3 linked regions of the Homo sapiens genome follow. The protein of the gene in region 2 interacts with the protein of the main gene of each other region in a pairwise test. Each region holds a gene or a part of one and is shown on either strand. Other genes may lie near its edges. The genes, in order: BTRC, MAP2K1 and PDGFRL.

The links.
Region 1: the proteins of MAP2K1 (region 2) and BTRC interact in binary tests that used the Homo sapiens proteins (3 or more experiments, as listed by UniProt).
Region 3: the proteins of MAP2K1 (region 2) and PDGFRL interact in a two-hybrid assay, tested with the Homo sapiens proteins (one large-scale study listed by BioGRID and IntAct).

What each region holds. Positions count from the first base shown.
Region 1 is NC_000010.11:101,525,067-101,528,794, reverse strand, and holds part of BTRC (F-box/WD repeat-containing protein 1A), read right to left. Parts: intron 2,783-3,728; coding exon 2,596-2,782; intron 1-2,595. UniProt on the Homo sapiens protein: Substrate recognition component of a SCF (SKP1-CUL1-F-box protein) E3 ubiquitin-protein ligase complex which mediates the ubiquitination and subsequent proteasomal degradation of target proteins. Recognizes and binds to phosphorylated target proteins.
Region 2 is NC_000015.10:66,385,412-66,389,011, reverse strand, and holds the start of MAP2K1 (dual specificity mitogen-activated protein kinase kinase 1), read right to left. Parts: upstream 2,101-3,600; 5' UTR 1,665-2,100; coding exon 1,585-1,664; intron 1-1,584. UniProt on the Homo sapiens protein: Dual specificity protein kinase which acts as an essential component of the MAP kinase signal transduction pathway.
Region 3 is NC_000008.11:17,636,054-17,639,781, reverse strand, and holds part of PDGFRL (platelet-derived growth factor receptor-like protein precursor), read right to left. Parts: intron 1-3,728.

The sequences.
Region 1 (3,728 bases), on a different chromosome or scaffold from region 2:
AGTATAACACAGAAAGACTTTATTGACGTATTAGGCTTGGTAAGACAACTTGAAAGAAGAAAATGAGAAACTGATGGAGTAAATTTTTTTTTAAAAAAGGGAAGAAAACTGACACAGGAATAAAGTCAACATGTAAAAACAGAAGCAGCAACAAGAAAGTCGAGGGAATAATGGAGGAAGTTGACACGGGATGTATAAGTATTTGGAATTTCATGGGTTTATCATGGGATTAAGAGGATAAACATGCCCAAAGACAAGGGGATATAGTCAGAACTCTGAAGGATACTCAAAAGAGCGGGAATGGGTTTCTGTGGATAAAGAGATAGGGGAAAAAAGTGGTAATTAGTGCTGGATCCTGGATTACTTCACCTACCCTTTAGAAAGGCTCAAAAGCCATCTTCTCAATGATTGTTTTTTCTTTGTAACTAACATAAAAGATCTTGCCATTTAGTGCCAATCCCAAGCAAAACTGTGGAGCCTTTTACCTTTGGCATTTTCACATCCATCTGCCAAGAACTGCCCACTTACTTCTTGATCTTTCTGCCTTCAAAAAAGGACTCAGTAAACTCCCAATTTATGATGAAGGTTTACTGTCATTTACAGTCCAAATGGGAACACAATGTATTTTAACAGGTAACAGAACCTTTATAGCTAAAGGAATGAATCTCCTTAACTGAAATTTCAGGAGTTATTTGGAGACGAGATTCTTTTTTTCTGAGGGATACAGAAATCTTCTCAGCTGCCCTAAAATTTTCTCATGTAAGCAACTGCCTGCTGTATCCCCAAGGCTGGTCCCAGCACTCTTAGCAAAATGATGGACCCCGAATACCATATAACTCCATTTTTATTTGCTTTGTTGTACTATTAAAGAGTTTATTTCCAAAGTATGAAGTAGGTTATGAAAGATTTCTATTTTTCTATGTAGCGAAATAAGAATTAAAAAACATATTTGAGAAGTAGTAATAATATTCTTTTGTGTGTGTGTGTGTGTGTGTGTGTATGTGAGAGAGAGAGAGAGAGAGAGAGAGAGAGACAGAGAAAGAGACAGGGTCTTGCTCTGTTGCCCAGGCTGGAGTGCAGTGGCATGACCACAGCTCACTGCAGCCTCAACTTCCCAGACTCAAGCCATCCTCCCACCTTAGCCTCCTGAGTGGCTGGGATTACAGGCATGCGCCACCAGGCCCAGCTAATTTTTTGATTTTTTTGTAGAGATGAGGTCTCAATATGTTGCCCAGCCTGGTATCAAACTCCTGGGCTCAAACGATCCTCTTGCCTTGGCCTCCAAAACTGTTGGGATTACAGGCGTGAGCCACCCCACCCGGCCAACAATATTCTTTGTTACACAGCCTAAAAATTGCCTAGTTTTTTTGTTCCTTTAATTCAATTTGAGAGAAAAATTTAAACAGTCTTCCTAATAGCCAGAATGATAAAAATCTGAGGCATTTGGTATAATATTTATAGGTCATTGTATTTATTATGTGTTAATAAATTTCAAAGATAGAAAAAAAGAAAGAGAGCCAACTACTTTTTCATGAAAATTCAAAGGAAAGCTGGCCCATGAATATTTATCTTTTAAAAGTGTTCTCTACTTTTAACTGTTTTCCTCTTTATGATCCAAGATAAACAACTGATAAAATTAATTTGGAAGGACATCACTAAGCACACACATGCCTATTATAATTTTTTCTGTCAATGAGAATATTTAATATGTCACCTTTATTTGTGAACTATTACTACGTAGCTTTCCTATAGTGACATTCTAGAGACATACTCTGAGAGAAAAGTATTTAAAGAAAGATATCTTTCAGAAGTTCTAATGAAATAGTACTGTTAAGAGAACAACAAAAAAATTAGTGAAGTCTCTTAGACTGCTAACTATATGATGCTTTGGGGAATTCGGAATTAAGTCAGAAAATCTTGAAAAACAGAAGTCTTAAGAAGAAACAATGATTTATACTTAATTTCATTTTCACTTTTTCTGATGGCTAGAGTTCTTATTCCACTTGGGCTTAAAAATAATTTTTGATTACAAAGGTGACAAAACACCAGAGGCATAAGATAAAGGCAAGAAATTTTCTGAAAGAAACCTAGGGTTCATGCGATTCTCCTGCCTCAGCCTCTACAGTAGCTGGGATTACAGGTGCACGCCACCATACTCGGCTAAATTTTGTATTTTTAGTAGAGTTGGGGTTTCGCCACGTTGGCCAGGCTGGTCTCAAACTCCTGGCCTCGAGTGATCTGCCCACCTTGGCCTCCGAAAGTGCTGGGATTGCAGGCGTGAACGCACTGTGCCCAGCCACAGGATACCAACTTCTGCCCAGATAACAGAATGTTTTAAACAGGAGGGCTGATCAGCTTTCCATTATTTTTTGCAAAGCAGTATTAATACAATATCATGTCATTTTGTGAGTGACAGGTAAGAAGAAAAACTGCTGAGTATATGAACATTTGTTCTCTGTTACATTTTAAGCTAGAAATCAACAAAATCACCATATTAAATGAGAAGTGGTCTCATTGGCTCCCCAAAAATCTTTCAGTGACTGTGAATGGCCAGGTCCTGAAGCCGTATAAGAGTAAGAAAAGTTAAAGGCTCACCATCCTCTTCGTTCTGCCAGGCCTCTCCACAGAGAATCTGTCCTGACCATTCTCTCGATAAGCTTCTTCCACAGCATGCCATCAGAGGTCACTCGGTACCATTCCTTGCACACAAGTTCAGCAGCACATAGTGATTTGGCATCCAGGTATGACAGAATGTTCTCAGCAATATGATCCAATCCCCGAGCTTTCAGTAGGGGGAGGAGGCAAAGAAAAAGAACACAGAAGGTGGCGAATGATTTTTTACAAAAGGTCCTTTAAAACAGAACAGCATTTGTTCTGCTATGAAGGCACATCATTGTCCCTAGTGTGGTCCAGTTTCTTTTTCAAACAGAGGCTTGGGTAAAATGAGTGTCAATAATTTTTCCATAAGGTTACAGAAATGAACAGTATTTTCCATCTTCCTTTAGATAAGGAAGTTAAAGCTAACAACCAGCAAACCCCCCAAGACATTAAAAATAAAAAGGATTCCAGAAAACAATTCACATCTATCTATATGGATTTCAGCACTAGGGGATGTTCTATGGATGGCATCTCAAACTCTATGATTCAGACCCCCCCAAATCTCTATATTAGGTCCATTTCTCATTCTGTTTCTATTACTGCTGTAGTTCCAAAGCTGTTCGGTAAAAGAAATGTCCTTTAAATGTACTAGGGGAGAGGCACTAAGTCAGAATGTGCTGGGTTATAGAATTTTGGGCATGCAGAAAGGAGAGAAGAAGGAAATACAGAATGGCATGGAAATATCCCAAGAGAAAGACAGAGATGTATGTTTAAGTTCAAGAATGGGTTTAATTTCAGATTTAAAAAAACTATATTTGAGAGTAGCTGCTGCTATAAAACCTAAATGACAGTTGGGCAAAAATGAAAAAAAATTCCAGACCAAAAGATAACTTGGTTAGCATTTCAGAGAATATTTTGTAGGAGGTGCAGAGGAAAACAGTGGAGAACAGATCTTGGGGAGTGTAAACCAGAAGGGCTTCCCAATTAAAGTTCTCCACCACCCAAATCTGTACTGAGGTCTCAGAAGAAAAGATCCTATAAAATAGGATGATCTCACTAAAAAAACTTCTTTTGCCTGCTGTTCTACATTTACAACTGAGATAAAAACATTCAAAGTTATTTCTGTTTAC
Region 2 (3,600 bases):
TCGCTTGAACCCGGGAGGCAGAGGCTGCAGTTAGCCAAGATCGCACCATTGCACTCCAGCCTGGGCAACAAGAGTGAAACTCCGACTCAAAAAAAAAAAAAAAAAAAGAACAAATGTTTGCAATGCAATAATGCAATCCAACTACCTATACAAGTCAGTATTATGCAAAATAGACCCCACAGGATTGAGAGGGGACTAAAGAAGAGAGTCTGTTGGGAGCAGGTCTGAAAAACACAGCTGAACACACACCACAGGTCCACCATCGACCTTGTGATCATTACAGGGATGGAACAAGTCATCAAGCCAACAGGTCCCCGGGTTATTAAAATCTAGAGAAAGTTGGCTGGGCATAGTGGCTCATGCCTGTAATCCCAGCACTTTGGGAGGATCGCTAGAGTCCAGGAGTTCAAGACCAGCCTAAGCAATATAGCAAGACCCCATCTGTATAAAAGTTTAAAAAATAAAATTTTCTAAAAATCTAGAGAAAGGAAGGGAGGTTACAGAAATCACCAAAGAGCATAAGGTCCAAGCCTATTCTGATTTCATCAATTAGCTTCCTAAAGTCTGCAGTGTGCAGGTAAAAGATTAAGAACCCAATCCTTATTGAAGGTTGGGCAAACAACAACCAAAAAAAGGCAAAAAAATAATAATAACCTAATCTTTTCTGGCTATTTCTCTAGCTAGCTAAGCAGCTTTCCCTCACATAGTCTTGTCCCTTACCTAGAACCCAAGAGAGTTGTGGGAGCTCAGAAACCCCCAGGAAACAGACTCATGATTATTTAATGAAATAAAGTGCTCGTTTGTAAGCAACGCTGGAAGCTGCAGAGATGGAGCACCTAGCATGTGGTTTCTAGGTCATGGTGTTCATGCCTCAGGTCAGGAGTTTAGGGGCTCCTGGTGAAGTACGGAAAGCTAGGAAATCATTAGTGAGAAAATGGTTTGTTCAATGAATGAATGAAGAGTAGGATGAAGAAGAAAGCCGCTTTCTTGAGCAATTTCCCAGGAAGGCCAAGTACCAGGAACCTCCAAAGTCAGCAAGGAAAAGCCACGAAGTCCACACGGACTTCCAGCACGCCCCCGCTGGCCAGGCAGTTGGCCTGCAACAAGGCACTCAGGCCCCACAGGTGTCAGGCATGAAGGTGAGGATGATGCTCCACACTTAATACCCTGAGCTGGTCTCAAAAGCACAGATGCGATCTTAATTCTTTCCAAAACATTAGCCTCCTCTCCCCGTTACAGGCCAGACTCCCAGATGATCACATTTAGAACAGAACTGGGAGGAGGCAGGGGAGACGTGCTAGCTTTTATTTTCTTGGGAGAAGACTGTACAGTGGCCAGGAACCACTAAAACGGTCGGGAAAAGGGGTACAGAGAGGAATGGAGACCCGCGGGATCCGCTAACTGGTCTGAGTCAGGAACACAATCAGTGCTTAGTCACCGATACCTCGGCGGCCGGGAGTTTCTCGCCCCCTGCCAGCCCCAGACGTACGTGACAAACCAGATCGGAGCCTGGCGCGCGCTCCTGCTCCCCGGCTCGGGCCTCCCCAGCCGGGCCCCGAGGTTCACCGCCCGCCCCATACTTACTCCGCAGAGCTGGTCCCGTTAACTGCAGAGCCGTCGGGGGCCGGGTTCAGCTGGATGGGCGTCGGCTTCTTCTTGGGCATTTTGGACCCGGGTAACGCGCTTCCAACTCCGGGGGGAGGGCAGCACCTCTCGCTTCCTCCCGCTGCGCTGCCCCGCGCCCGCTGCGCAGGACCAAGTCCGGGCCGCGGGCCCCGGGGCTGCCTTCAGCGGGTGCGCCCCGCGCGGTCCCGTCAGCGCCGAGGGGCCGGTAGCGGTCTCAGTGGACCCCCGCCCCACCCGCCCGGGACTCGGCTTCGCGCGCAGAGAGCCGAAAGGCTGCCCTGCAGGAGCGGAGCGGGCTGAACGTGCGGTTCGGCAGCCCGGGATTCCCTTCCTCTCTCTCTCTCAACCAACCAGTCCCTCCGGCTCGGGCGGCACAGCCGCGCGCGCACCAGAGCCCAGCTCCAGCTCCTGCCGGGGAAAGTGCCGCCGCCGCCGTGCTCCTAGCCGCTCTGCGAAGCGGCCCTGGGAGGGACTGGAGGCCGGGGGAGGGGCGGGGAAGGGGAAGCCTCGCCTCCCACCCGGGATGCGGCGCTTTCCACACTCCCACTCGGCTCCGCCCCTATTGCCTCGCAGACAACCAATGGGGGCAAGCCTCGGCGGCAGATGACGCGGAAATACGTCACGGGAGCGCGGCGCACTGCCTGGGGGCGGGGTCCGTCGCGGACGCCGTGGCGCCCTCTGTCGCCCCGAGGCAAGCAGGTGGACCCAGCTGAGAAGAAGTCTGTGTCGCTGTGTGGTGAGCTCTCCAGGCCAGGTGCCGCGCGGCCTCCACCTCTGCGGTAACCGGCCTGCCCCCGACCCCTGTCCCCAAGCCGAGCCGTGTTGACGAAAATGAAATAACAAAATAAATAAGGAAAAGGACCCCTTCCTGTGTCCAGAGGAGAGGCAGCGTGGGGAATAGGAAACTTGTCGAGAGGCTCCTTTGAGCCCAACAAACTGACGCATATAAATTTTGTTTGTTTAATGGTAATACTACTGAGAAGGGTGCAAGGAAATGGATACTCAGTGCTGATGAGATTGTAAATTGTTGCGACAGTTTTTGAGAGCAGATTGATGATTTTTTTTTTTTTAGACTTGGGAACTTTTTTTTTTTTAAGACGGTGTCTCCCTCAGTTGCCCAGCCTGGAGTGTAGTGGCGCGATCTCCGCTAACTACCACCTCTGCCTCCCACGTTCAAGCGATTCTCCTGCCTCAGTCTCCTGAGTAGCTGGGATTACAGGCACTCGCCGTCATGCCCGGATCCTTTTTGTATTTTTGTAGAAACGGGTTTTCACCATGTTGGCAATATTTTTTTAAAGCCTTAAAAACACTCTTTCGGGCCAGGAGCGGTGGCTCACGCCTGTAATCCCAATTTTGGGAGGCCCAGGCAAGAGGATCACTTGAGCCCAGGAGTTCGAGACTAGCCTGGGCAACATAGTGAGTCCCCCGTCTCTATTAGCTGGGCATGGTTGTGTGCAGCTGTCGTCCAAGCTACTGAGGAGGCTGAGGCTGGAGGATCACTTGAGCCCAGGAGTTTGAGGCTGCAGTGAGCTATGATCACACCACTGCACACCAGCCAGGGCTACAGAGCAAGACTCCCTTTAAAAAAACTTTCATCCAGGCCAGGCGCGGTGGCTCACGCCTGTAATTCCAGAACTTTGGGAGGCCGAGACGGGTGGATCACGAGGTCAGGAGTTCAAGACCAGCCTGGCCAAGATGGTGAAACCCATCTCTACTAAAAATACAAAAAATTAGCTGGGCGTGGTGGCGGGTGCCTGTAATCCCAACTACTTGGGGGGCTGAGGCAGAGAATTGCTTGAACTCGGGAGGCGGAGGTTGCAGTGATCCAAGATCACACCACTGCACTCCAGCCTGGGCGACAGAGTGAGACCCCGTCTCAAAAAAAAAAAGAACTTTAATCCAAAAATTCCAATTCTGTGAATTACTAAAGAAATAAGATGTGAATAAAGAGCTTAATAAGAGGCACAATACCCA
Region 3 (3,728 bases), on a different chromosome or scaffold from region 2:
AAATTCATTGCAAAAAGATCGTCACCTAGGCACAGAGTCATCAGGTTATCTAAAGCGAAGATGAAGGAAAGAATCTTAAGAGCTGTGAGGCAAAAGCACCAGATAACTTATAAAGGAAAACATGTCAGATTAACAGCAGATTCCTCAGCAGAAACCCTACAAGCTAGAAGAAATTGAGGCCCTACCTTCAGCCTCCTTAAACAAAAGAATCATCATCTAAGAATTTTGTGTACAGCAAAACTAAGCTTCATAAATGAAGGAGAGATACAGTCTTTTTCAGACAAACAAATGCTGAGAAAATTCGCCACTACAAACCCAGCACTGTAAGAAATGCTAAAAGGAGCACTAAATATTGAAACAAATCCTTGAAATACACCAAAATAGAACCTTCTTAAAGCATAAATCTCATAGGACCTATAAAACAAAAACACAATAAATAAATAAATAAATAAAAACCAAGGTATTCGGGCAACAAATAGCAAGATGAATAGAATAGTACCTCACATCTGAATACTAATGTTGAATGTAAATGGCCTAAATGCTCCATTTAAAAGATTCAGAATGGCAGAATGGGTAAGAAGTCACCAACCAAGTATCTGCTGTTTTGAAGAGACTCACCTAACAAATAGGACTAACATAAACTTATGGTAAAGGGCTGGGAAAAGATATTCCATGCAAAGGGACACCAAAGTGAGCAGGAGTAGCTATTCTTTTTGTTTGTTTTGTTTTGTTTGAGACAGAGTCTCACTCTGTCGGCCAGACTGGAGTGCAATGGCTCAATCTTGGCTCAATGCAACCTCCACCTCCCAGGTTCAAGTGATTCTTGTGCCTCAGCCTCCTTAGTAGCTGGGATTACAGGTGCAGGCCTGTCTTATAGAGGAGTAGCTGTTCTTATATCAGACAGAACAAACGTTAAAGAAACAGCAGTTAAAAAAGAGAAAGACGGACATTATGTAATGATAAAAGGACTTGCCCAACAGGAAAATATCACAATTATATATATATATATATATATATATATATATATATATATATATATATATGCACCTAATGCCAGAGCTCCCAAATTTATAAAACAATTACTGTTACACCTAAGAAATGAGATAGACTGCAACACAGTAATAGTGGGGAACTTCAATACTCCACTGTCAGCAATAGATAGGTAATCAAGACAGAACATCAACAAAGAAACAATGGATTTAAACTATAACCTAGAACAAATGGACTTAAGGGCTATTTGTAGAACATTCGACCCAACAACTGCAGAATATACATTCTATTCATCAGCACATGGAACATTCTCCAAGAGAGACCATATCATAAGCCACAAAACAAGTTTCAATAAATTTAAGAAAACTGAAATTATATCAAGTACTCTCTCAGACCACGGTGGAATAAAATTGGAACTCAATTCCAAAAGCAACCCTCAAAACATACAAACACATGGAAATTAAATAACCTGCTCCTGAATGATCACTGGGTCAAGAATGAAATCACGATGGAAGTTAAAAAATTATTTGAACTGAATGAAAATAGTAGCACAACCTATCAAAACCTCTGGTATACAGCAAAGGCAGTGCTAAGAGGAAAGTTCATAGCATTAAATGACTACATCAAAAAGTCTGAAAGAGCACAAATAGACAATCTAAGGTCACACCTCAAGGACTGGAAAAACCAGAACAAACCAAACCCAAACATAGCAGAACAAAAGAAATAAAGATCTGAGCAGAACTGAATGAAATTGAACCAAAAAAATACAAAAGATAAACAAAAAGCTGATTCTTTGAAAAGATAAATAAAACTGATAGACTATTAACAAAATTAACCAAGAAGATCCAAATAAGCTTCAGTTAGAAATGAAACAAGATATTACAACCAATACCACAGAAATACAAAAGATAATTCAAGGCTACTGTGAACAGCTTTACATACTCAAGCTAGAAAACCTAGAAGAGATGGATAAATTCCTGGAATTATACCACCCTCCTAGATTAAACCAGGAAGAAAGAGAAACTCTGAACAGACCAATAACAAGCAGTGAGATTGAAATGGTAATTTAAAAAACTGCCAACAAAAATAAGCCCAGAATCAGATGGATTCACAAATGAATTCTATCAGACATTCTAAGAACTGGTATCAATCCTATCAACATTATTTCACAAGACAGAGAAAGAAGGAATCCTCCCTAAATCATTCTGTGAAGCCAGTATCACCCTAATACCAAAACCAGGAAAGGACATAACAAAAAAGAGAAAACTATAGACCAACATGTTTGATGAATATAGATGCAAAAATCCTTAACAAAATACTAGCTAACCAAATCCAACAGCATATCAAATAGATAGTCCACCATGATCAAATGGGTTTCATACTGGGGTGGTTTAACATACACAAGACATTAATGGGATACACCACATAGAATTAAAAACAAAAAATCACATGATCATCTCAACAGACACACAAAAAACATTTGACAAAATCCAGCATCCCTTTATGATTAAAACCCTCAGCAAAATTGGCATAGAAGGGACATACCTTAAGGTAATGAAAACTGTCTATACTGAATGGGAAAAAGTTGAAAGCATTTCCCCTGAGAACTGCAACAAGACAAGGATGCCCACTTGCATTCAACATAGTACTGGAAGTCCTCGCCAGAGCAATCAGACAAGAGAAAGAAATAAAGGGCATCCAAATCAATAAAGCGAAGTCAAACTGTCGCTGTTTGCTGATGATGTAATCATATACCTAGAAAACCCTAAAGACTCCTCCAAAAAGCTGCTAGAACTGATAGATGAATTTAGCAAAGTTTCAGGATACAAAATTAATGTAAACAAATCAGTAGCTCTGCTATAAACCAACAGCAACCAAGCTGAGAATCAAATCAATAACTCAACCCCTTTTATAATAGCTGCAAAAAATATATATACTCAGAAATATACCTAATCAAGGAGGTGAAAGACCTCTGCAAGGAAAACTACAAAACACTGCTGAAAGAAATCATAGATGACACAAACAAATGGAAACACATCGCATGCTCATGGATGGGTAGAATCAATATTGTGAAAATGACCATACTGCGAAAAGCAATCCACAGATTCAATGCAATTCCCACCAAAACACCACCATCATTCTTCACAGAACTAGAAAAAACAATCCTAAAATTCATGTGGAACCAAAAAAGAATCTGCAGAGCCAAAACAAGACTAAGCAAAAAAAAAAAACAAATCTAGAGGCATCCCATTACCTGACTTCAAACTATACTATAAGGCCATAGTCACCAAAACAGCATGGTACTGGTATAAAAATAGCACATAGACCAGTGGAACAGAATAGAGAACCCAGAAATAAACCCAAATACTTACACTGATCTTTGACAAAGCAAACAAAAGCATAAAATGGGGAAAGGACACCCTATTCACCAAATGGTGCTGGGATAATTGGCAAGCCAAATGTAGATGATGAATAAGACTGAATCCTTATCTTTCACCTTATACAAAAATCAACTCAAGGTGGATCAAATACTTAAATCTAAGACCTGAAACCATAAAAATTCTAGAAGATAACAGTGGAAAAACCTTTCTAGACATTGGCTTAGGCAAAGAGTTCATGACCAAGAACCAAAAAGCAAATGCAACAAAAACAAAGATAGATCGGGCTTAATTAAACTAAAAAACTTCTGCACAGCAAAAGAAATAATCAGTAGAATAAACACACAACCCACAGAGTGG